4 linked regions of the Homo sapiens genome follow. The protein of the gene in region 4 purifies or fractionates together with the protein of the main gene of each other region. This does not show direct contact. Each region holds a gene or a part of one and is shown on either strand. Other genes may lie near its edges.

What was found.
Region 1: the proteins of NOP56 (region 4) and NEMF fractionate together in Homo sapiens (co-fractionation; 2 studies listed by BioGRID). This does not show direct contact.
Region 2: the proteins of NOP56 (region 4) and SNU13 fractionate together in Homo sapiens (co-fractionation; 3 studies listed by BioGRID, with this or other methods). This does not show direct contact.
Region 3: the proteins of NOP56 (region 4) and TCOF1 purify together in Homo sapiens (affinity purification with western blotting; 2 studies listed by BioGRID, with this or other methods). This does not show direct contact.

What each region holds. Positions count from the first base shown.
Region 1 is NC_000014.9:49,842,788-49,849,827, forward strand, and holds part of NEMF (ribosome quality control complex subunit NEMF), read right to left. Parts: intron 3,479-7,040; coding exon 3,353-3,478; intron 1-3,352. UniProt on the Homo sapiens protein: Key component of the ribosome quality control complex (RQC), a ribosome-associated complex that mediates the extraction of incompletely synthesized nascent chains from stalled ribosomes as well as their ubiquitin-mediated proteasomal degradation.
Region 2 is NC_000022.11:41,673,433-41,678,907, forward strand, and holds the end of SNU13 (NHP2-like protein 1), read right to left. Parts: intron 3,729-5,475; exon of another isoform or gene 3,694-3,728; coding exon of another isoform or gene 3,310-3,693; exon of another isoform or gene 1,770-3,309; intron 1,764-1,769; coding exon 1,501-1,763; 3' UTR 501-1,500; downstream 1-500. Other genes in the region: protein LLP homolog, read right to left, coding at 3,310-3,693.
Region 3 is NC_000005.10:150,367,687-150,374,726, forward strand, and holds part of TCOF1 (treacle protein), read left to right. Parts: intron 1-157; coding exon 158-231; intron 232-1,029; coding exon 1,030-1,216; intron 1,217-1,842; coding exon 1,843-1,916; intron 1,917-4,319; coding exon 4,320-4,550; intron 4,551-6,487; coding exon 6,488-6,700; intron 6,701-6,930; coding exon 6,931-7,040.
Region 4 is NC_000020.11:2,655,632-2,658,933, reverse strand, and holds the end of NOP56 (nucleolar protein 56), read right to left. Parts: coding exon 3,188-3,302; intron 3,001-3,187; coding exon 2,900-3,000; exon of another isoform or gene 2,720-2,899; intron 2,534-2,719; coding exon 2,385-2,533; intron 2,311-2,384; exon of another isoform or gene 2,240-2,310; intron 2,161-2,239; coding exon 2,039-2,160; intron 1,996-2,038; exon of another isoform or gene 1,924-1,995; intron 1,854-1,923; coding exon 1,716-1,853; intron 1,562-1,715; exon of another isoform or gene 1,446-1,561; intron 1,006-1,445; coding exon 640-1,005; 3' UTR 541-639; downstream 1-540. Other genes in the region: IDH3B (isocitrate dehydrogenase [NAD] subunit beta, mitochondrial isoform e precursor), read left to right, coding at 97-175, 412-425. UniProt on the Homo sapiens protein: Involved in the early to middle stages of 60S ribosomal subunit biogenesis. Required for the biogenesis of box C/D snoRNAs such U3, U8 and U14 snoRNAs. Part of the small subunit (SSU) processome, first precursor of the small eukaryotic ribosomal subunit.

The sequences.
Region 1 (7,040 bases), on a different chromosome or scaffold from region 4:
TCTGAGGTCAGGAGTTCAAGACCAGACTGGCCAACATGGTGAATCCCTGTTTTACTAAGAGTACAAAAACTAGCTGGGCGTGGTGGCAGGTGCCTGTAATCCCAGCTACTCGGGAGGCTAAGGCAGGAGAATCGCTTGAACCCGGGAGGCGGAGGTTGCAGTGAGCCAAGATCACACCACTGCACTCCAGCCTGGCGACAGGGTGAGACTTATTCTCAAAAAAAATTAAAAAATAAAAAAAAAGAAAGAGTAAAAACTCAGGTTAGAGTAGAAAAGGACATTTACTACACAAATAATCAGCAAAGGGCTCATAATCAGATTAGATAAAGAGCTCTAAGAGATCATATCAAATGTTGCTAAGGATGTGGAGCTAAGGGAATTTTCAACATCAATGAATCTCACAGACATTATATATTGAATAAAAGAGCCAGGCGTGGTGGCTCACCCCCGTAATCCCAACACCTTAGGAGGTTGAGATGGGAAGATTGCTTGAGCCAGGGGTCCAAGGTCAGCCTGGGCAACGAAGTGAGAGTCTGTCTCTACAAAAAATAAAAAAATTGGCCAGGCATGGTGGTGCACATCTGTGGTACCAGCTACATGAAAGGCTAAGGCAAGAGGGTCACTTGAGCCCAGGAGGCCGAGTTTGCAGTAAGCCCTGATCATGCCACTGAATTCCAGCCTGGCCAACAGAGCAAGACTCTATCTCAAAAAAATAAAAAATATTGCATAAAAGAAGGCAGACCCAATGTCATGCATTGCTTAACAATGGGGATACATTCTAAGAAATGCATTTAGGCAACTTCGATGTCGTGTGAACGTAATAGAGTATACTTACACAAACCTAGACGGTGTAGCCTAATACATCCACCAAAGATATGATATAACCTATTGCTCCTAGGCTAGGAATCTGTATAGCATGTTACTGAATACTGTAGTCAACTGTAATACAATAGCAAGTATTTGTGTATCTAAGTACATCTAAATATAGAAAAAGTACAGTAAAAATATGGTATTACAACAACAGTTCCAGGCCGGGCGCAGTGGCTCATGCCTGTGATCCCAGCATTTTGGGAGGCCAAGGCGAGCAGATCACCTGAGGTCAGGAGTTTGAGAACAGTCTGGCCAATATGGTGAAACCCCATCTCTACTAAAAATACAAAAATTAGCTGGGCATGGTAGTACATGCCAGTAATACCAGCTACTCAGGAGGCTGAGGCACTAGGATTGCTTGAACCCGGGAGGCAGAGGTTGCAGTGAGCTGAGATCACACCCTTGCACTGCAGCCTGGGCAACAAAGTGAGACTCTGTATCAAAAAAAAAAAACCAAAACAAAACAAAAAAAAAACCGCAGTCCCCAGCCTTTGGCACCAGGGACCAGTTTCATGGAAGACAATTTTTCCATGGATGGGGGGTGCAGGGGTATGGTTTCCGGATGAAACTGTTCCACCTCAGATCATCAGGCATTAGATTCTCGCAAGAAGCATGCAACCTAGATCCCTTGCATGCACAGTTCACAATAGGGTTCACGCTCCTATAAGAATCTAATGCCACCACTGATCTGACAGGAGGCAGAGCTCAGGTGAGTAATGCTCACTCGCATACTGCTCACCTCCTGCCGTGTGGCCTGGTTCCACAGACCAGTTCCAGTCTGCGGCACAGGGGTTGAAGATCCCTGGTATAAAAGATTAAAAATGGAACACCTGTATAGGGCACTTACCATGAATGGAGCATGCAGGACTGAAAACTGCTCTGGGTGAGTGACAGTGAGTAAATGTGAAGGCCTGGGACATTACTGCATACTACTGTAGACTTGATAAATACTGCACACTTGGGCTACACTAAATTTGTTTTTTATTTTTTAATTTTTAAAAAAATTATGCTTACCTCAGACCAGATTAAATTTATGTATTTATTTATTTATATACATACACACGCACGCGCACGCGCGCGCACACACACACACACACACACACACACATATATTTTTTTTTTCCTTTTTGAGACTGAATCTCACTCTGTCACCTGAGCTGGAGTACAATGGCATGATCTCAGCTCACTGCAACCACTGCCTCCCAGGTTCAAGTGATTCTCCTGCCTCAGCCTCCCGAGTAGCTGGGACTACAGGCACGCACCACCACACCAGGCTAATTTTTGTATTTTTAGTAGAGATGCAGTTTTGCCACATTGGGCAGGCTGGTCTCAAACTCCTGACCTCAGGTGATCCACTCGCCTTGGCCTCCCAAAGTGCTGGGATTACAGGTGTGAGCCACCACACCTGGCCCAGATTAAGTTAGTTAGTTAGTTAGTTAGTTAGTTTATTTTTGAGACAAAGTCTTGCTCCGTTGCCCAGGCTGGAGCACAGTGACACAATCTGAGCTCACTGGAACCTCTGCCTCCCAGGTTCAAGTGATTCTCCTGCCTCAGCCTCCCGAGTAGCTGGGATTATAGGTGCCCGCCACCACGCCCAGCTAATTTTTGTATTTTTTAATAGAGACGGGGTTTTGCCATGTTGGCCAGGCTGGTCTTGAACTCCTGACCCCAGGTGATCTGACCCCAGGTGATCCGCCCTCCTCGGCCTCCCAAAATGCTAGGATTACAGGTGTGAGCCACTGTGCCCGGCCTGAGTCATTGCGCTCAGCCAAATTTATTTTTAAGATGTTTTTCTTTCTTCAATAATAAATTAACCTTTGCTTCCTGGAACTTTTTTACTTTATAAACTTTAAACTTTTTAGCTTTTTGACTCTTGTAATAACACTTAGCTTAAAACACATATCGTACAGCTGTACAATACTTTCTTTCTTTAGATCCATATTCTCTAAGCTTTTTTTCCATTTTAAATTGTTTTGTTTTTACTTTTAATGTTTTTGTTAAAAACTAACACACAAACTCACACACCAGCCTAGGCCTACACAGAGTCAGGATCAAGATGTCACTAAGCAGTAAGAATTTATTAGATCCATTACAATGTTACAGGACCAACGTTTATATGCAGTCTGTTGTTGACTGAAACATCACTATACATACAGCGCATCAGTGCATGACCGTATTTGACTATTTTCTGGTTGCATATTAGTCCTGAAATGTCAAGTACCAAATAATTTACTTCTCAGATCTTCATCTCCTACATTCATAAGGCTATTCTAAATGGCTAAAGTCTGCCTAAACTCAGACCTACAGATAAAATGAAGGTTATTACTGGAAAATTTTATTTTATTTGTGTGGCACCCATTTCCTAGGGTAGTAACAACCTTTGACACAGAAAAAAAATGTTCCCCCACTCATGTTATATAGCACTATTACAAAATGATTAATAAGAAATTTTCCTTCACCATATCCCACAAATTTAACTTACCCTATCATAGAGCTCAATGATTAAATGGTAAGCAGCTTCATCACTTCCAAATTGAAAATCTACAATTCTATCCACACCAAGCTGTTTTGCACTGACTAATCTCCGACTCTTCAAATGTTTTCGGCACTAGCAAGAGAAAGAAAAAGGCATTCATTTAGTAAAAGTGAATTCCTAACCATTTGGTATTGGTTTATAAATAAGCTTCTTTTCATTATCATCAGGAATATTTAAAACGTTGTGAATAACAGTATAGTCATAAAGTAATAGATTGCAGATGATAATCAGAGGGAAAACATTTTATTATAAACACTAACTCTGAAACAGTGTTTTATTTGCATTTTTTTAAGACAGGGTCTCACTCTGTCACCCAAACTGGAGCCCAGTGGTGTGATCATGGCTCGCTGCAGCCTCGACTTCCCTGGCTCAGGTGATCCTCCTGCATCAGCCTCCTGAGGATTGGGACCACAGGCACATGCCACTATCCCCAGCTAATTTTTTCATTATTTGTAGAGACAGGGTCTCACTATGTTGCCCAGGCTAATCTCAAACTCCTGGGCACAAGCAATCCTCCTGCCTTGGCCTCCCAAAGTGCTGGGATTACAAGCGTAAGCTACTGAGCCAGGCTTTTATTTTCAATTTTTAAGTAGAGAATGATGGACCTATAGCAAAATTTGCTTTGTTGCTTTATACCACTGCTAAATTCCTTGTTGTGGTCCTAATGACCTCACTCATAAGCCACAACCTTTATTTATTTACTTTATTTTGAGAGAGAGTCTCGCTCTGTCGCCCAGACTGGAATGCAGTGGCACAGTCTCAGCTCACTGCAACCTCCGCCTCCCAGGTTCAAGTGATTCTCCTGCCTCAGCCTCCTGAGTAGCTGAAATTACAGGCGTGTGCCACCACACCCGGCTAATTTTTCTATTTTTAGTAGAGACGGGGTTTCACCATGTTGGTCAGGCTGGTCTCGAAGTTCTGACCTCGTGATCCGCCCACCTCAGCCTCCCAAAGTGCTGGGATTACAGGCATGAGCCACTGTGCCCAGCCAACCTTTACTTATTTATTTATTTATTTATTTATTTGGAGACGGAGTCTCACTTTGTCACCCAGGCTGGAGTACAGTAGCACAATCTTGGCTCACTGCAACTTCTGCCTCCCAGGTTCAAGCAATCCTCCTGCCTCACCCTCCCAAGAGTAGCTGGGACTACAGGCGCCCACTACCACGCCTGGCTAATTTTTTGTATTTTAGTAGAGACGGGGTTTCTCCACGTTGCCCAGGCTGGTCTCGAACTCCTGAGCTCAGGCAATCTGCCCACCTCGGCCTCCCAAAGTGTTAGGATTACAGGCGTGAGCCACCACACCCAGTCCCTTTATTTTTTTTAAGTCTCTTTGATGACACTTCTAAGTATGCCAAATTTCCCTTTTGTATGCTTCATTTATGTTCAAAATTAATTAATTGTTTCCACTAATCTTCTACTTCTAATACATATCAACTATGGACCATGAGCTTATGGCTTATGGTATCCTGTAAATAGTCCACCACCTTATATCCAGTTACCCCTACCAATTCTTTTTTTTTTTTTTTTTTTTTTTTTTTTCTTTAAGAGAGTCTTTGCCAGGAGCGGTGGCTCAGGCCTGTAATCCCAACACTTTGGGAGGCCGAGGTAGGTGGATCACTTGAGGTCAGGAGTTCAAGACCAGCCTGGCCAATATGGTGAAACCCCATCTCTACTAAAAATACAAAAATTAGCTGGGCGTGCTGGCGCATGCCTGTAATCCCAGCTACTCAGGAGGCTGAGGCAAAAGAATCGCTTGAACCCAAGAGGCGGAGGTTACAGTGAGCCGAGATGACACTACTGCAATCCAGCCTGGGCAACAGAGCAAGACTCTGTCTCAAAAAAAAAAAAAAAAAAGAAAGGGACAGAGTCTCTCTGTTGCCCAGGCAAGGCTCAAACTCCTGGACTCAAGCAATCTCCCACCTTAGCCTCCCAAGTAGCTAGGATTACAAGTGCCCTGCCACTGTGCCCAGCTTATTCCTACAAACTTTACTAATATAACCCAAAGAGAATTTTCCTGGTATCGTCTCTAAGCTTTTGATAACCTATTTCAATCCAATGTAATAACTCTCATTCTTTATTAAATCCCCTTCCTCCTATCCCTGGCCATAAGGTTCTTTTTCTTATTAACAATTAAAATAATATTAGTATATCAAATCCAAATACAATTTACTTGGCAATACCTACTCTTTTAGATTACATGTACCGTCTTTTTGTACAAATATTGAAGTATGACATGGACTGGTAACAAGACTACTCTGTAGCCTCTAAAATATCTTACAATTGTTTCTAATTTTTTAATATAAAAGACCCTTTAGTTAAGACCAATAAGAAAGAATGCTTTCTTCAAGACTCAAATACGGTCTGGGTATGGCAGCTCACGCCTGTAATCCCAGCACTCTGGGAGGCCGAGGCAGGCGGATCACAACGTCAGGAGTTCAAGACCAGCCTGGCCAACATGGTGAAACCCCATCTCTACTAAAAATACAAAAATTAGCCAGGCATGGTGGCGTGTGCCTGTAATCCCAGCTACTTGGGAGGCTGAGACACGAGAATCACTTGAACCCAGGAGACTGAAGTTGCAGTGAGCCAAGACTGCGCCACTGCCCTCCAGCCTGGTGACAGAGCAAGACTCCGTCTCAAAAAAAAAAAAAAAAAAAAAGACTTAAATACGAAACAAATTTTACAGAAGTTAATCTAAGACCACCTTCAAAAAAAAGACAAAAAATCCACTCCTTGACAAAGGTTGAAAAAAAACAACAATAAACACATAAATTCATTATTAAAATTAATGCTAACATTTTCATAACTAAGAAGAGTTCTTCTCCAGACCTTATAGCCCAAATTGACTGAAATTCGCATTTTATATACTCACATAGGCAGAATAACTTCCTAGGATAAACAATCTGCTCCTCCTTAACTCAGTAGTTTTAAGAATGACCTATACTGATTTGATTAAACAGTAACCTACATGTAGGGCTATCTTTAAATCCCTAGAGGAAAATCACAATCAGTTCTTCCAGAGTCCCTGAGTAATAATTTTATTCAAGAAAAATAAAGACAAAAGGCATCATTGAAAGGACAGAAGTTCACACAAAGGAATAGTAAAAAGGGGATTATTTATCATGGAGAGTACAGATGGACACATAGTACATATTTAAAGCTTGTTTCATTTCCCTATCAACAGCTTGGTGAAATCAACCTGCTGCTGTGTGCCACAAAGCTATAGCTGTCATCCCCAAATGTGAATACTGGAACAACCACTGTGATTTATCACATAATAGACATAACTCTGCCTGTGCCATGCAACAGTAACAGCTCTTTGATTTATAAAGTGCTTAACATTGTCTGCTCCATTGAGGAAATCTTTCTATACATTTAGATTGACACGTACACCTAACCCATAGAATTCTAAGTATTTTTTAAAGTGACTGACCTATTAGTGTAGTCTGATTTGGAGATGTTTACACAATCCCAGTGTCCTATTTCATTGGCCTGTTACCTCATCCATAAAACTGAAATTGTATTTGTTCTTCACAGTCCACTGAGTTGCTAAACAACTTAAATGAAATACATATTATTCATCTGCCTTAAAAAGTGCTACACAACAGGTAGCATTATTATTGTCATTATTA
Region 2 (5,475 bases), on a different chromosome or scaffold from region 4:
CTCCAGTTGAGTGTGTATAAGACGACATTTTGAACTGCCAAGGTAGAAACTACCTGGTAGGAGGAGACAGCTCTTCCATAGCCTTCTGGTAAAAAAAAGTCTAAGCAAGTGGCCAGGCGTGGTGGCTCACACCTGTAATCCCAGCGCTTTGCGAGGCTGAGACAGGCAGATTACCTGAGGTCAGGAGTTCAAGACCAGCCTGGCCAACATGGTGAAACCCTGTCTCTACTAAAAATACAAAATTAGCTGGGCGTGGTGACGCACGCCTGTAATCCCAGCTACTTTGGGGGCTGAGGCAGGAGCATCACTTGAACCCAGGAGGCAGAGGCTGCAGTGAGCCGAGATCGTGCCATTGCACTCCAGCCTAGGCAACAAGAGTGAAACTCTTTCACAAAGAAGAAAAAAAAAGTCTTAAGCAGCTATCACCACTCTAGTAAAGCTAAGTATGTCTTCATTCCAATTTTAGCCGGATACTTACTAAGAATCAGGCACTGCCATTCTGTCATCAAAATGGAACAGATTTATTAGGATGCTCACAAGAATGGAGAACACATGAACTAGCACTCTCCTCATGTGACAGAGAGTACATCTGACCCACATGGTGGCAGGACACAGGGGAAGGGCTCTCAGAGCTGGTGCCAAGTGTCCACCAAAGAAAGTCCCATTCACCAGAGACAGGCTGTTTCCTTGGACTCCACCATCTCTGTTACAGCTACCAGCCAGGTCTCCATGATCTTCCTGGAATCCTTCATGCCAGCATCAGTTCATGCTCTCTGAGCTTGTCACTCCCGACTCTTTCAAGACCCAGGTCAACTGCCCCATGGCTCACCCACCCAGGCTGCCTCCGGAGTCCTGCAGCACATCTCTTTGGTATGCTGCTGCCCTGCTACCCTCAAGGGCATGGTTGTGGGTAGGGGGAGAACATCAACATCACATTACCAAAAGCAAACAGCAGGGGTACATTAGTAAACGACACTTGGACATAGCCGAACAACCTCACAGAACACATGCTTCCTCCCCAAATGATACCTAATCCCCCAAGAGCAAATGAAACCCCTTGATCACTTGAACACGTATGAATGATTCTGTGTGCCAGGCACAGGGACACACAATGAATGCTGTTTAATTCCACCACACCCCGCACACAACAGGAAGCTAGTGGCTGAAAGCTGGAACCAGATCTCTGTCCTGGCTCCATCAGCTTTCTCCTGGCTCTTTCTGCCTTTCAACGGTGCCACCACCCTGCTTCTGTCTGCTCTGAACACTTGTTCCAAAAAGGGAGGATAAAAGGATGAAGGATGGCAGAGGGAGGGAGGAAAGGAAGGGGGATAGCAACCCTGTAAAACAGAACAAAAACAACACAAAAATCCAGAAACCAGATTTAGTACTACATTTTATAACAATAGAGAGTAGCTGAAAATACTACATGCTAACACAGATAATATGATACACAACCTCAGGGGGGAAGCTGGCAGGGAGCACGTGGCAGAGGCCACAGGTTTAGACTAAGAGCCTTTCAATGGACTGCTGAATGGATTGGATCTGCTGTTTCAGCTGCGAGCCTTCTTTGATGGTGACAGAACAGGCGATGACAGGCCTGGAGACCCCACAGGCTCTCCCCAGGGCCTGCTTGGAGCGCACAAACACGTAGGGCACATTCTTGTCTTCACACAGCAGCGGCAGGTGCAGAATGATCTCCAGTGGCTCGGCGTCTGCAGCCATCACGATGAACTCAGAGATGCCCCTGTTGAGGGTTTTGGTGGCTGCGGAGAGAAGGACGTGAAGCTAATAGGTGATGTGGGCTTGGGCAGGGCAGCCACAACAAACTGGGAAGAATGCCTAGGCACACACAATTATGTGTCCTAGACCGGCCCTGGGATATGATAAAGGATTCAAACACCAGTCAGTCATACACAATGGCATTTTCTCAAGCCCTACATTAAATCCACCACTTATCCTCAAAACACGTCCTGAATCTGACCACTTCTTCTTCTTCTTTTTTTTTTTTGAGATGGAGTCTTGCTCTGTCACACAGCTGGAGTGCAGTGGTGCGATCTTGGCTCACTTCAACCTCCGCTTCCCGGGTTTAAGTGATTCTCCTGCCTCAGTCTCCCAAGCAGCTGGGATTACAGGCACGTGCCACTGTGTTTAGCTAATTTTTGTATTTTTAGTAGAGAGAGGGCTTCACCATGTTGTCCAGGCTGGTCTCAAACTCCTGACCTCAAGTGATCCACCCACCTCGGCCTCCCAAAGTGCTGAAATTACAGGTATGAGCCACTGTGCCTGTCCTAATCTGACAACTTTTTTCTTTCTTTTTTTTTTTTTTTTCTTTTTTTGAGATGGAGTCTCACACTGTCGCCCGGGCTGGAGTGCAATGGCGCAATCTTGGCTCATTGCAACCTCTGCCTCCCAGGTTCAAGTGATTCTCCTGCCTCAGCCTCCCAAGTAGCTGGGATTACAGGTGCCTGCCACCATGCCCAGCTAATTTTTTGTTTCACTATGTTGGCCAGGCTGGTCTCAAACTCCTAACCTTGTGATCCACCCACCTTGGCCTCCCAAAGTGCTGTGATTACAGGCATGAGCCACCACGCCTGGCCCTGACCACTTCTTTCTACTCCTCTGCTATACTCGTCCAAGTCACCATCATCTCTTACCTTGTCAACTGCAACAGCTTCCACAAACCCCCACCAGCAAGTAGTAGTATATTAATAATATAGTATTTCTCAAGGTATCTGTGACTGAGAGTCAGAGTTTTACCATCTCAATCTGCCATAATCAATACTTCTAGAAAGCTGATCCCACATGCGACTCACCATGCAAGTTCAACACCCCACAGCACCGTTTCAGATGCGTACTCTCCTGACTGCTTGCCTCTGTGGCTCAGTGCGAATACTCTGCATTCATGCTGGAGTACTTGAGAAGGGCACACACTCTAGAGCTACACTGTCTGAGTGCAAATGCTGGCACTCATTCTTGTTACACAAATGACCTTGAGCAAGGTGTTTAACTTCCCTTACTTTTATCATCTATAAAATAATTCTACCTAACAGGATTCTACCTAATAAAAAAAGAATTACCTAATTCTTTTTAACCTAATTCTTTTTTTTTTTTGTATCAAAGAAAATATTTTATTCAAGTTCCCAAAACAAACTTCAGGAGTTATGCTGGGTTTGAATTGAAGAAAAAAGGCCAAGTTAAAATAGGAAAACAAATGGTTTTCATTTGGTGGCAGCTGAAATCAAAGTATACATGTATATACATTCTAATCCATCATCTATCCCATGTGGCATTTTCCAAGGTTTTAAGAGTCTACCACGCCAAACCCTTTGCCACTTTCACTGCTTTTGCTTTGCTTTTCCCCTTTCTTTTCTCTCGCTTTGCCGTCAGCCTTTTTCTTTGCCTTTGGTTCATCCATATTGGGTACTGTCCATGCTGGTCTAGAAGAGTCTTTTTGTTTCTCTTAGTATCAGTCTCCCTTTTCATGTCATCTTTTTCATCTTTTACCTCACATTGCATTTTCTCTTGGCAATGTTTGGGTACCACCACAGTTGCTATCTCTTGAACATCTTTCATTAAAACATCACCGTCTAGTTTGAGAATACTTTTAAGCCTGCTGGCCTCCTTTGGGGCATTCTTTTTTCTCTTTTCAGCACGCATCTTTCTTTTCCACTTACTCCGTAAGCTTTTAGCCATGTTTCACCTGAGAAACGAACACCCACACCTCAGCTCTTTTTAACCTAATTCTAATTACCTAATAATTCTACTTAATAGGATTATTGAAAGGATTAAACCAGTTAATAAGAATGATGAGGCTGGGCATGGTGGCTCACACCTGTAATCCCAGCCCACTGGGAGGCTGAGGCAGGTAGATTGTTTGAACTCAGAGTTTGAGACCAGCCTGGGCAACATGGCAAAACCCCATCTCTACTAAAAATATAAAAAATTAGCCAGGTGTGGTGGCGTACACCTGTAGTTCCAGCTACCTGGGACGCTGAGGTGGGAGGATCACCTAAGCCCAGGAGGTCGTGGCTGCAGTGAGCCATGATCAATGCCAATGCACTCCAGCCTGGGCTGCAGAGTAAGACCCTATCTCAAAAAAAAGTAAAATAAATAATAATAATAATACCTGACACATGGCAAATGCAAAGCATGTTCATTTCTATTGATATTACTATAGCTTACTCACCCTACAAAAGTCATAGGAGTGACTCTTTTATAAGTGTTAAGTAAGATCATAGCAATCTTGCTGTTCAAAATCCTTCTACTCATTTACCATTGTACTCACTGCTAACAGTGGCCTACATGGTCTCATGTGATCTCCTAGTACCTCTCATCCCCACACTTAGTTCCAGCCACACACCAGCCTCCTTAGAATCCCTCAAGCATGCCTTTACACCATGCCCAAAAACGTTTCTTTCCAACACCCTCATCTATTCAGTTCTCTGCTCAAACTCCTCAGACAGACCTTCTCTGAATACTCCATCTAAAAAGACCCACCACTGCCATTCCTATCCCCCTTCTCTACTTTATTCTGTTTTACAGCATTCTTTTTTTTTTTTTTGAGACGGAGTCTCACTCTGTCGCCCAGGCTAGAGTGCAGTGGTGAGATCTCGGCTCACTGCAAGCTCCGCCTCCCGGGTTCACACCATTTTCCTGCCTCAGCCTCCTGAGCAGCTGGGACTATAGGCGCCCGCCACCACGCCCGGCTAATTTTTTGTATTTTTGGTAGAGATGAGGTTTCACCGTGTTAGCCAGGATGGTCTCGATCTCCTGACCTCATGATCTGCCCACCTCGGCCTCCCAAAGTGCTGGGATTACAGGTGTGAGCCACCGCGCCCGGCCTCTTACAGCATTCTTTACCACCAGGCATAAAACCTATGTCTTTCTCCACTGGAATGTATACTCCAAGAAGGCAGAGACTTCATTTTGTTCACCAGTGCATCATCAGCATATATACATGCGCCTGGCACATAGCAGGCAATCAATAAATATGGCAAGAAAGAATACCTGACACTGAGGCAGAAGTACGGAAAATTGTTGCATCTCCCTCCCTGAACTCCCAGTAAGCATATTCTGAATTAAGTCGCTGAGACTGAGCATCTCCATTCAAGGACCTGTGTGCTTATCACCGTGCAAAGTATGGCAAGAGGAAATAAGGTTGCTCTGTGTCCATGAGTCCTCATCTACCTGAAGTGTAAGAAGTCACATCCCTGCCCAGCCAAGCTGACCTGAGTGCATCAAGTGAGAAGAGAGACCTCCCAGGAGAGCTGGTGGGTCACCCTACAATGCCCCACTGGCCACTGCTATACCAGGCACTGCAGTTACTGCAGTGTGACGAGCAGGGAGGAAAGAGCACTACGACGAGACCCACAGAGTCTACTTTATCTTCCTTCAGCAACACAGGTAAAAGCGATTGTAATAGTTCTCCTAAATCTCAAACACAGTTGACAAAATCTCTGATGTTTCCATTAAAAA
Region 3 (7,040 bases), on a different chromosome or scaffold from region 4:
AGAGCTCATTCCTGCAAGTCTGGGCTCAGCCTCAGATCCTCATGCCAGCACCAGGCAGCCAATACCAATAGAATTGTTAGGTGAGATGAAACCTGTTTGCCATTCATAGATGAGAAAAGCTCATCTGGCTCCTTTAGCAGATGTTTGTTTCTTGCAGCCCCAAGACTAGCATCTACCAACTCCTCAGTCCTGGGGGCGGACTTGCCATCAAGCATGAAAGAAAAAGCCAAGGTGAGTGGGACTGCCTTCCAAGCTATTGCCTATGGGATTTAAGGTGCCTGGTAGGGGACAGTCTTACATGTCAGAGAAGGATAGGGTTGTGAGTAATTGCCCCACCTGGATTCAGAGCTCAACCTGTGTCACCAGTTGTGGGATCTTAGTCCCTTCACCTCTCTGGGCCTCAGTTTACTTTTCTATAAAGATAAGGATGATGCCTGCTGCAGTGGGCCACTGGGCACATTCTACACCTGGGGTAGGCGATTTCTTTCCTCTTTCATGCCTGCGTTCACCCGTTCACTCAACAGATCTTGACTAATACCTGTTATGTTCCAGGCACTGTGCTAGGTGTGGAGGCACCGTAGTGATCAAGACATCTGTGGTTCTGAAACTCTAAAAGCATTTTCCAAACTGGAAACTGCTCAAAAAACAAGGTGTCATTTTCTAATAATCCAGAAAGCAGAGTTAGATACATACATGTATAAAGAATTGTGCCTCTGCGATTGCCTGGAGCATTAGCAACAATGTCTCAAAGTAATTATGAAGTAATGATAAGATCAACAACAAACTGCTACTTACCACTTAGTAAATAACTACCATGTCCCAAGAACTGGGATTCTGTTTTCTCAACACCTCTGGTGAGAGGAGGTGCTGTTTTTAACCTCACTTTAAAGATTGGGAAACAGATTGAAGGGGTAGTTTACCCAAACTCACACAGCTAAGAAGTGGTAAGATTGGGTTCAGATGCAAGTGGCCTGTGCTCTTAGTTCACCATGCCATACCAGATGTGTCTGTCACTCTTGTTCTCTGTAGGCAGAGACAGAGAAAGCTGGCAAGACTGGGAATTCCATGCCACACCCTGCCACTGGGAAGACGGTGGCCAACCTTCTTTCTGGGAAGTCTCCCAGGAAGTCAGCAGAGCCCTCAGCAAATACTACGTTGGTCTCAGAAACTGAGGAGGAGGGCAGCGTCCCGGCCTTTGGAGCTGCTGCCAAGCCTGGTAAGAAGTCCCCACCTCTAGGAACCTAGTCCCCAGAACTTGGGCTGGTGAGGCAGGCCTAGGCATTGCTTTAAGTTCTGGGACATTTCTGGAATCAAAAGTTTGTCTCCAGGACAGCCAGGTTCCTGCATCTTAGGACTTTTCTCATCACCTAGACGAGGGAGGGTCAGCTTACAGGGACCTGGCCTCAGGCTGAACAGCCCACCTGGTGGTTGGAGCATTTTCTGCTTTATGACTCCCTGGTGAGTTACAGGGACAACTGGCAGCTCAGAGACTAAACTGAAAGGCCTGATTTGCCTCTGTTTCCTATGTAGAGTAGACATCTGTCTGGCCTGCATCAGTGGATATGATGGTGGATGGAGGTTCTGTAGACTGTCAGGTGCTGGTGCATATTTGTTGGGTCCCCTCACAGCCCTTCCCAGGGCCTCAGAGATGTGTGGGAACATAGGGATGGTGATGGTACCCACCTCAGAAGGGGGCTTCACAGCTCAGTGCATGTGAGGCACACGAGGGGTGAGCGCTCAGCACCTGGCTTTGATGAGCAGCTGGTTTGTGGGGAGGTGCTGGGGAGGGGCAGGTGAGGCTGGAAAGGGAGTCCCTCAGTCCCCTCCGTGTCCGATCCTCAGGGATGGTGTCAGCGGGCCAGGCCGACAGCTCCAGCGAGGACACCTCCAGCTCCAGTGATGAGACAGACGTGGAGGTAATTGCCACCCATCCCTAGGAGTTGCCCTCTCCCAGCCTCTAACCCTTCCAGGAACCTGTCTGGGGCTTCAGACACCAGTGGGCCCAGATGAGTTCAGCAACTGTGGTAGGGTGACCAGGAGCTGGAAAGGCTGCAGCCGGAGAGGGGCAGGGAGAGGAGTCTGGTGCTGCTTGCTGCACTCTGAGTGTGAGATCAGCCCTGGGGGCAGGAGAGGGACACCCTCCTGCCTGTGAGACTAGACAAGCCTTCCTGGGAGAGGTGCCCTGGAGTAGGGCCTCAAAGCACAGTGGGCTTCACTGGGAAGGGATGTGGAGGAGGCAGGGCATTCCAGACAGGAAATGGGGCAAGAACAGGGCCCAGAGGCAACAGTGTGGCTGTCGTGGTCTGGCTAGGGCTGCGGCTGCTGAGAGGGTTCTGGGCCAACTGGTGAATGCCAGGCCTAGACACTTGGCTAGAGTTGGGCAGGACTCTTGGGTTTGTGAACTTTGACCTGGAAAAGGTCTCCACAGGTTACTTTTTATTGTGTACCTACTAAGTGGCAGACCTGGGGAATATAGTGATGAGCAGGACAGGCAGAGTTCCTGCTGCCATGGGGCAAGGGAGCGTCCCTCAGATATTTAATTGGTGATGGCTGCTATGAAGTGGAAATGTAGAGGGCCACGCAGGGCAGGAACCTGACGTTGATGAGTAGGCGTAAGCAGAAGGAATGGCATGTGCAGAGAAGGCGGCAAAGAGAGTTTGGTGCTTTTAAAGAACATTGATCTTTTTTTAAGACAGTCTCACTGTGTCACCCAAGCTGGAGTGCAGTAGCGCGATCTTGGCTAGCTGCAACTTCCACCTCCCGGGTTCAAGCGATTGTCGTGCCTCAGCCTCCCAAGTAGCTGGGATTACAGGTGCACGCCACCACGCCTGGCTAATTTTTGTATTTTTTGTGGAGACAGGGTTTCACCATGTTGGCCAGGCTAGTCTCGAACTCCTGACCTCAAGTGGTCCATGTGCCTTGGCCTCCCAAAGTGCTGGGATTACAGGCATGAGCCGCCACGCCTGGCCAAAACCTTGATCTTTAAATGAGAGGGAGAAACCAGGCACGGTGGCTCGCACCTGTAAGTGCAGCACTCTGGGAGGCCAAGGCAGGAGGATCATTTGAGGCCAGAAGTTTGAACCCAGCCTGAGCAACATAGTGAAACCCTGTCTCTACAAGATGTTATTTTTTAAAAAAACAAATAAATTATGGGGAAAGTGACACAAGATGAAGTCCTAGGTAGACAGGGGCCAGATCTTCTGTCTGACCTTGAGGACCACCATAAGGAATTTGGGTTTTATTCTAGGGGCTGTGAGAAGCCATGCCAGCAAGGAGAGATGGCCTGATTTGCATTTAATAAGATTGCTGGCTGCAGCCTGGGTTGGAGGGCAGTGCAGAATAAAAGCAGTAAGACCATGTAGGAGACTATTGGAGTAATACTGATACTGGCATAAGAGGCTGGGGGCTGGGAGACCAAGGTGTCCACAGTTGGAAAGATGTTTTCAAGGGAAAACCAGCACAAGTCAGGGATGAACTGATCTGGTGCCCAGGGAACTTCTCACTTTACTGTGCTGCCTGGCCCAGTAACCCTGTGAAGGTTGAAAGCTCACCCCCATCTACCCCAGGCCTTACCAAGGGCTGCCCTCCACCTTCCGTCCTCACCCTTGCGCCCTAGATACCACCAGCTGTAAGGACATCCCTGGCTTCTGTCACCCCAGGCCTTGCCAAAGGGAAGAAGACCACTCCCAGCCCTCCATAAACACACAACCTCAATGGGCTGAGGCTGTGCAGAGCTCCAGTAGCAGACGCCCCAGAAACCCAGGGCCGCAAGGGGTCTGATGGATCTCAGAGGTAGAAGTAGGGCACTGACTGCCTGGGAAATGTCTGAATTGTGGAAGTGTAGGAAAGAGCTCACAGAGGGAAGGAATTTGCCCAAGGTGTGGCAAGCCAGTGGCAGAGGTGGTGTTCACATCCTGAACTCCTGGCCCTCAGGAGGGCTGCTGTGATCAGATACTTGAGTTTAAGGGGCAGACAGGATGCGCTCTCCTGATTGAGATGCAAGCCCTTCTCTCAGGCCAAGCCCGGTGTGTGCCAGGTGGGAGATGAACGTAATGGTTTTGAGATCTGTTCCAAAGTCAGACAGTCCAGGGTTCCAGTGGGGCTCTGTCCCTTCATATTGATCATGAGTGATTTTACCTCTTTAAGCCTTGTGTACTTTTCTGGAAAATGGATCTAAAGCTAATAGCCGTCTCAGGGAGTTGCTTAAAAATCCAGTGACATTAGGAAAGAGCTTTATCAACTGCTGAAGCCCCTAATACAGAACCTTAGGGGGAAACAGTAATTATTATTCATTTTCTAATTCCATCCTCTTGTTCCAGGGGAAACCCTCAGTAAAACCAGCCCAGGTCAAAGCCTCATCAGTTTCTACTAAGGAGTCTCCAGCAAGAAAGGCGGCCCCAGCCCCTGGGAAGGTGGGGGATGTGACACCCCAGGTCAAAGGAGGGGCCCTGCCCCCAGCCAAGAGGGCCAAGAAGCCAGAAGAGGAGTCAGAGAGTAGTGAGGAGGGATCTGAAAGTGAGGAGGAGGCCCCTGCAGGGACACGAAGCCAGGTGAGGCCTGGAGGAGGGCTGCCCCTTGGAGGACCTGCGGGTCCCCCAGCAGCCTGAGCACTCTGCCATGAGCACCTCTGCCACTGGAGTTGGGGAGAGGGAGGACTATGGTGTGAAGTTGAAGAGCAAGAACAGCCTGCTTCCCACAGGGGAGTCTTGCACTCCACTTTGTCTGTGACCAACTTTACCTCAGTTTCTCTGCCTAGTAAATGGGCCGCTGTCCTCGTCCCAGCCAGTCCTGCTGTGAGGGACTTGAGAAGTTTTGATTGCCTAATCCTCTGACTTCTCAGGACAAACCAGACCCTGAGCAGGCAAACACTACGTTAGCTAAAGGGAATCCAGTTCCCTTCCCCATCTGCTGGGAGTGGGCAGGGCTGCAGCCCCAAGGCCCTGGGTGTATCCCAAGGGCAAGACAGGGGGGCTGGAAAGCAATGGAAGTCAGAGCAGGAAGGAGGAAGAGTGAGGGTCACCCACCCAGCCCCAGGCCTGGGGCAGGACAAGGCGGGGGCATGCAGTAGATAAGCAGATCCCCTGCGTTAGCTGCTGGTAAATGGTAAAGAGGAAGTGGGGGACATAGGAATGGCAACTTGAAGCAGAGTGCTCTGGGCTGGCCTTGGGAGAAGGCGTCTCAGTAAAGACCAGAAGGAGGAAGCACTCTTAGGAAGGTCATTCCAGGCAGGGGCTCAGCAAGTGTCAAGGCCCTGAGGTAGAAGTAGGACTACGAATTGTGACAAATTGTTGTTCCCACCCCATCTACAGGGAACTTCTACGCCTCGGCTGTCTATTTTGCAGTGTCTGGGGGCTACACAGTGTTGGATGGGCATCCACTTTGAGAAGGAACACAAATGTGAATTTTTTTTTTGAGACAGAGTCTTGCTCTGTTGCCCAAGCTGGAGTGCAGTAGCGGCAATCATAGCTCACTGCAGCCTCACTCCTGAGTAGCTAGGAATACAGGCACACACCACCACACCCAGCTTGTGTGTGTGTGTGTGTGTGTGTATAGACAGGGTTTCACTGTGTTTCACAAGCTGTGGACTCAAGCAGTCCTCCCACCTTGGCCTCCCAAAGTGCCGTGATTACAGATATGAGCCACCGCACCTGGCCATAAATGTGAACTTTTATGTAAAATCTGCTTTCTCCATGTTGGCTCAAAAATTTAAAAAGGAGCTAGCCAAGCAAGACCTGTGTGGAGCAGCCTGCACTTTCTGCATGAGAAGCTTCTTAGAAGATCAGAGCTGCTGTTTTCTAGGGTTGTTGGCCCAGGGCTGAACACCCAGGGCCTTCCAGGGAAGACAGGGCCTGCAGCCACCCTGCCAAAGCCCCAAGACAGTGCAGAGCCCCACCGAGGAGTTAGTGAAGAGGGGGCCAGGTGTGCAAACCTTGCCCCATGAGGCTGAGGGTGGGCTTCCAGGGGTCCTGCTGCTGTCCATGTGCAGAAAGTCCAGTGAGGGCCTCCCTCAGTCCCTTCCCCACTTTCAGACTGCCTCTTCATTCCTTCCCTTCCCTGGGCCTTTGCACACCCCCTCCCCACAGCCCAGTCTGATGATGCTCCCGATAAGCCAGTGCCTGTGCCTCCAGAGCTCTCTGGCCAGTGGGAGCCCAGCAGAGGACAGGCTCTAACTACCCAGTGTGCTGGGGCACCAGGGGGAACCATGTTAAGGAAGTGGTGTCTCTTAGGGAGCCAGAGACAGAGGAGGCAGTGGCTAAGTGAAATGGAACAGGGGGCATGGAGGCTCCAGGAGTGAGAGTGTGTGAAGCTGATCGATTTTTGAGAAACCAGGAGGCCAGTGTGGCCAAAGTATCAGTCAAGGTGGGGAGTGGGGAGGGAAGCAGGGGAGGTCTTAGGAGCCTCATTAAGGCCTCTGGACTTTATCCTAAAGGCATCACCAGAGAGTTTTCACAAGCAGGAGAGCAAGCTGCCCTTTCTTTTTCACCAGGTAAAGGCCTCTGAAAAAATTCTCCAGGTCAGAGCTGCCTCAGCCCCTGCCAAGGGGACCCCTGGGAAAGGGGCTACCCCAGCACCCCCTGGGAAGGCAGGGGCTGTAGCCTCCCAGACCAAGGCAGGGAAGCCAGAGGAGGACTCAGAGAGCAGCAGCGAGGAGTCATCTGACAGTGAGGAGGAGACGCCAGCTGCCAAGGCCCTGCTTCAGGTGAGGCCTGAGGAGGGAGACTCCATGCAGCCAGGCCCGTCCCCAGAAGGCCTTCTCAGGACTTGTTCTCCCACTCTGGGCCAGAGCCCCGGGCGTGCCTCAGACCCCAGCCCCTTACTCCCCTCTCACTGTGTGGCATCATTTGCCCTATCTGGTCTTCTGTACGTGGTGTCCTGTGTCTCCTCACACGTCCATCCTCTGGGCTGTCTCCCCTTGTCTTGTTTCTCCAGGCGAAGGCCTCAGGAAAAACCTCTCAGGTCGGAGCTGCCTCAGCCCCTGCCAAGGAGTCCCCCAGGAAAGGAGCTGCCCCAGCGCCCCCTGGGAAGACAGGGCCTGCAGT
Region 4 (3,302 bases):
CATTCTTGGCTTCCATTTCCTCAATCACATTGCCCTACCTCCCTTCATGGGCTCTCTTTTCTCCCTCCCCACGGCTGTTGCCGGTGGTGGCTGTAGGTGCGGACTCGAGACATGGGCGGCTACAGCACCACAACCGACTTCATCAAGTCTGTCATCGGTCACCTGCAGACTAAAGGGAGCTAGAGCCCTTTATTTCTTCCAACCTTGCAAGGACCACACTCCCCATACCCTTCAGTGCAGTGTACCAGGGAAGAGACCTTGTGCCTCTAAGCAGTGGACCATGGTCACCTTGCTGGGTAGAGCCTAGGTTGTCCTTGGGCCGGCTTCCTTAGGGGACAGACTGTTGGGTGGTGATGGGGATTGTTAGGATGGAGCCCAGGCCACATGGATGATGATGATTCTCCCCCACAGGTTCGAACCTCTGACATGGGTGGCTATGCTACTTGCCATGACTTCACTGAGGCTGTCATTGCTGCCTTGCCCCACCCATAGGCCCTGTCCATACCCATGTAAGGTGTTCAATAAAGAACATGAACCAACTCTTGTGAATTTGTTTTTATTGGGGAACACGGCACAGGGTGGGAAATGTCACCTTGGGCTATGGTATGCCCCACCTCCCAGAGAATGTCCATTTGCATTCTAATCTTCCTGGGATGCTTTATGGAACTTTTTCTTCTTCTTGGAGCTGCTCTTGCCAACCGCCTCTTCAGGCCCACTGCTGACCGGCTCCTCTTTGGAGAATTTCCTCTTTTTCTTGGAGCCACTTCTGTGGCCTGCCTCCTCAGGGTCATTAACTGTTTCCTCCTTGGGTGTAGACTTCTTCCTCTTGGGAATACTGGTGCTGCCAGCGGTCTCTTCAAGATCGCTACTCATCAACTCCTCCTTGGAAAAAGATTTCTTTTTCTTGGGTTTGGAGAAAGAGATAGATGGGTCTTCCATTCCATTCTCCTGAGGAACCTCCTGGGGCTTTTGCTTTTTCTTCTTTTTGGGTTTTTCACTCATCTCCTAAAGGGAAGGACAGGGGAACAGGCTGTGAGAACAGTGCTCATTACATCTTCAGCAATTAAGTAGCCAAGGCAGGGGAACGCGTGTCGTTAACATTGCCCAGTGTTTCTGGGATAGTTTAATTGTGTGGGTATAACTTTAGAAATCCACCCCAAAGGCTGTCCCAAATTAGAAGGAAAACATGTCATGAGAAATTACCTCAGCCCATTAAAAAAAAAAACCTAAAAAACACCCACCATGCTGGTCGCAACAGAACCATCATGCCAAGTTCCAGACAGGGCCCTGAAACACTGTTTAAGAAACTGGGTGCTAAATGAAAATCTCAGGGAGAATGATTGTAGCTTAGCACATTGGGGACCTCCCTGCCCCCATCCCCACTGTGAAACACGACCACCTCCGGACACACGTCTGATAATAAGCAGAGCAGGAATTTACACTACCCCAGGTTGAGGACTCCTGGGAGGCAGCCGAGGACAGAACACACATGCCCAGGGAACGGGTGTGAGCTACAACCAGCTCTCTGGGCTCTTGAGCAAGTTCAGCACCTATCTCCTTCCTATAGAATCAAGAGGTAGTTTTAGATGTTTCAGGTCCTTGTTTCAGTCCAAAAGCCTGGACTCAAGACCACAGCTTGATGCAGCATATCCTTTGTTCTGCTGTTGAAAATCCTACAACCTAGGATCTCTGCCAGGGCCGTGCTGCCTACTGACCTCACACTCCTCTGGAGTACTACTGCTGTTTTCTGAAGACGCGAGGGCAAGTGCAGCCAGCCGTTTCTTTTCCTTCTTTAAGCGTTTCTTCTCCTGTTTCTCCAGCTTCCTAGTAATCTCAGCAGCCGCTTCCTCTGCCTGGTCAAAGAAAAGTGCTAAAAGGGCCTGAAGACTTCTGGTGCTCTGAGGACTCCTTTCTGGCTTTATTGGATCAGGCTCATTAAATCAGTTTTTTTGCCTCCATTCTACAAGGTCAGGCTCAGACAGTTCATCACCTCCAACAGCTAGCTATGCCACTCCACACCCAGCAAAGCCCAACTGACCTGAACCATTGCTTCCTTCATGACATCCAGATTCTTTCGTGGTATCTCTCCAGTCTCATAGAAGGACAGTCGCTCTTCAACTTGTTCTCGAAGCTTCTCCCCGAATACACTCGTGGGCACCTCTGGATGTGTGTGGGTGACAAAGCCTGTCAGCCCAAAGAGAGAAACTACCCCAACCCTGTGTTCCCTCTACCCTCAGCTTCACTCAGACCCAGAGTCTCAACACTCACTAGGTGAACTGCTGTTGACGAAAAATATTGCCATCATTGTGGAAGCTATGGTTGCAAGCCTCCCCACCCAGCCACCCAGCCCCTTCTCACACCTGCCAACGCCCCCCCACCCATACCAGAGAAGCAATCGATTCGTGAGGCAATACTGCATTTGTTTGCCAGGTATCGGGAGATGCGGCCTTTGTTCTTGGCAGCTGCTCGGCCAATGAAGGTGGAGTGGAAAATGAGTCCATATTTTGGAGTGTTACCCCTTGTCTTCAGGGCTCTGAGAGAATATTCAGTGGAGAGTTTAAGATCAGAAATTTCAACCCCATTAGCCAAGGCAGCTCAGCTCCTCCCCTCCTCTCACCCCGAAGTCCTGAGTGAGCCTCAGGCCAGATTGGATCTCTACCCCAATGCATGCCAACCCATAGCTCCCAGAGGCAGAGGGAAGGCATCCAATGTCGCTGACCTGGAAACTTGGTCCCTTTGCTGGGCCCTGGGAATCACTCAGACACCAGGACTGGCCATCACCCCCATAGCAGAGGCCTGTATAGGTCAGGGAGCCCTGGTCAGCCATCACCGTGATCCCCCAACAAGCAGTGGGCACCAGAAGTGGCACCTGATTGTGGGCAGGTGCCCTCACTGGTACCTGAACAGGGCCTTTTCAGCCCCAAGGATCTGCACTGTGGATGCTGGATACTTGGCCAGGTTGGTGAGGCTGCCAGCATGTGCGATGAGACGTGCACCTACCTGGAGAGAGAGTCAAGGAAGCAGTCAGAGAAATGAACTGCTGACCTGCCCAGTTGCACGACAGCCCTGCTCCCCACCTCCCCATCAAGCACAACTAGGGAAGACATGGTGGGTCACGAAATACAGCAGTGCAGGTGCACATGGCAACAGTCCTTATTCTCCCATTTTTGAGTCCCCTGTGACGCACCGCTTCCCCAATTAGGGCTGACAGGCTGGGGGCTACTTGGCTCATCTTGGAGCGCAGGTAAGTGTGTAGGCTCTGGCGGTATTCAGATAAAGACACCACACGACTGGAGAAGCTC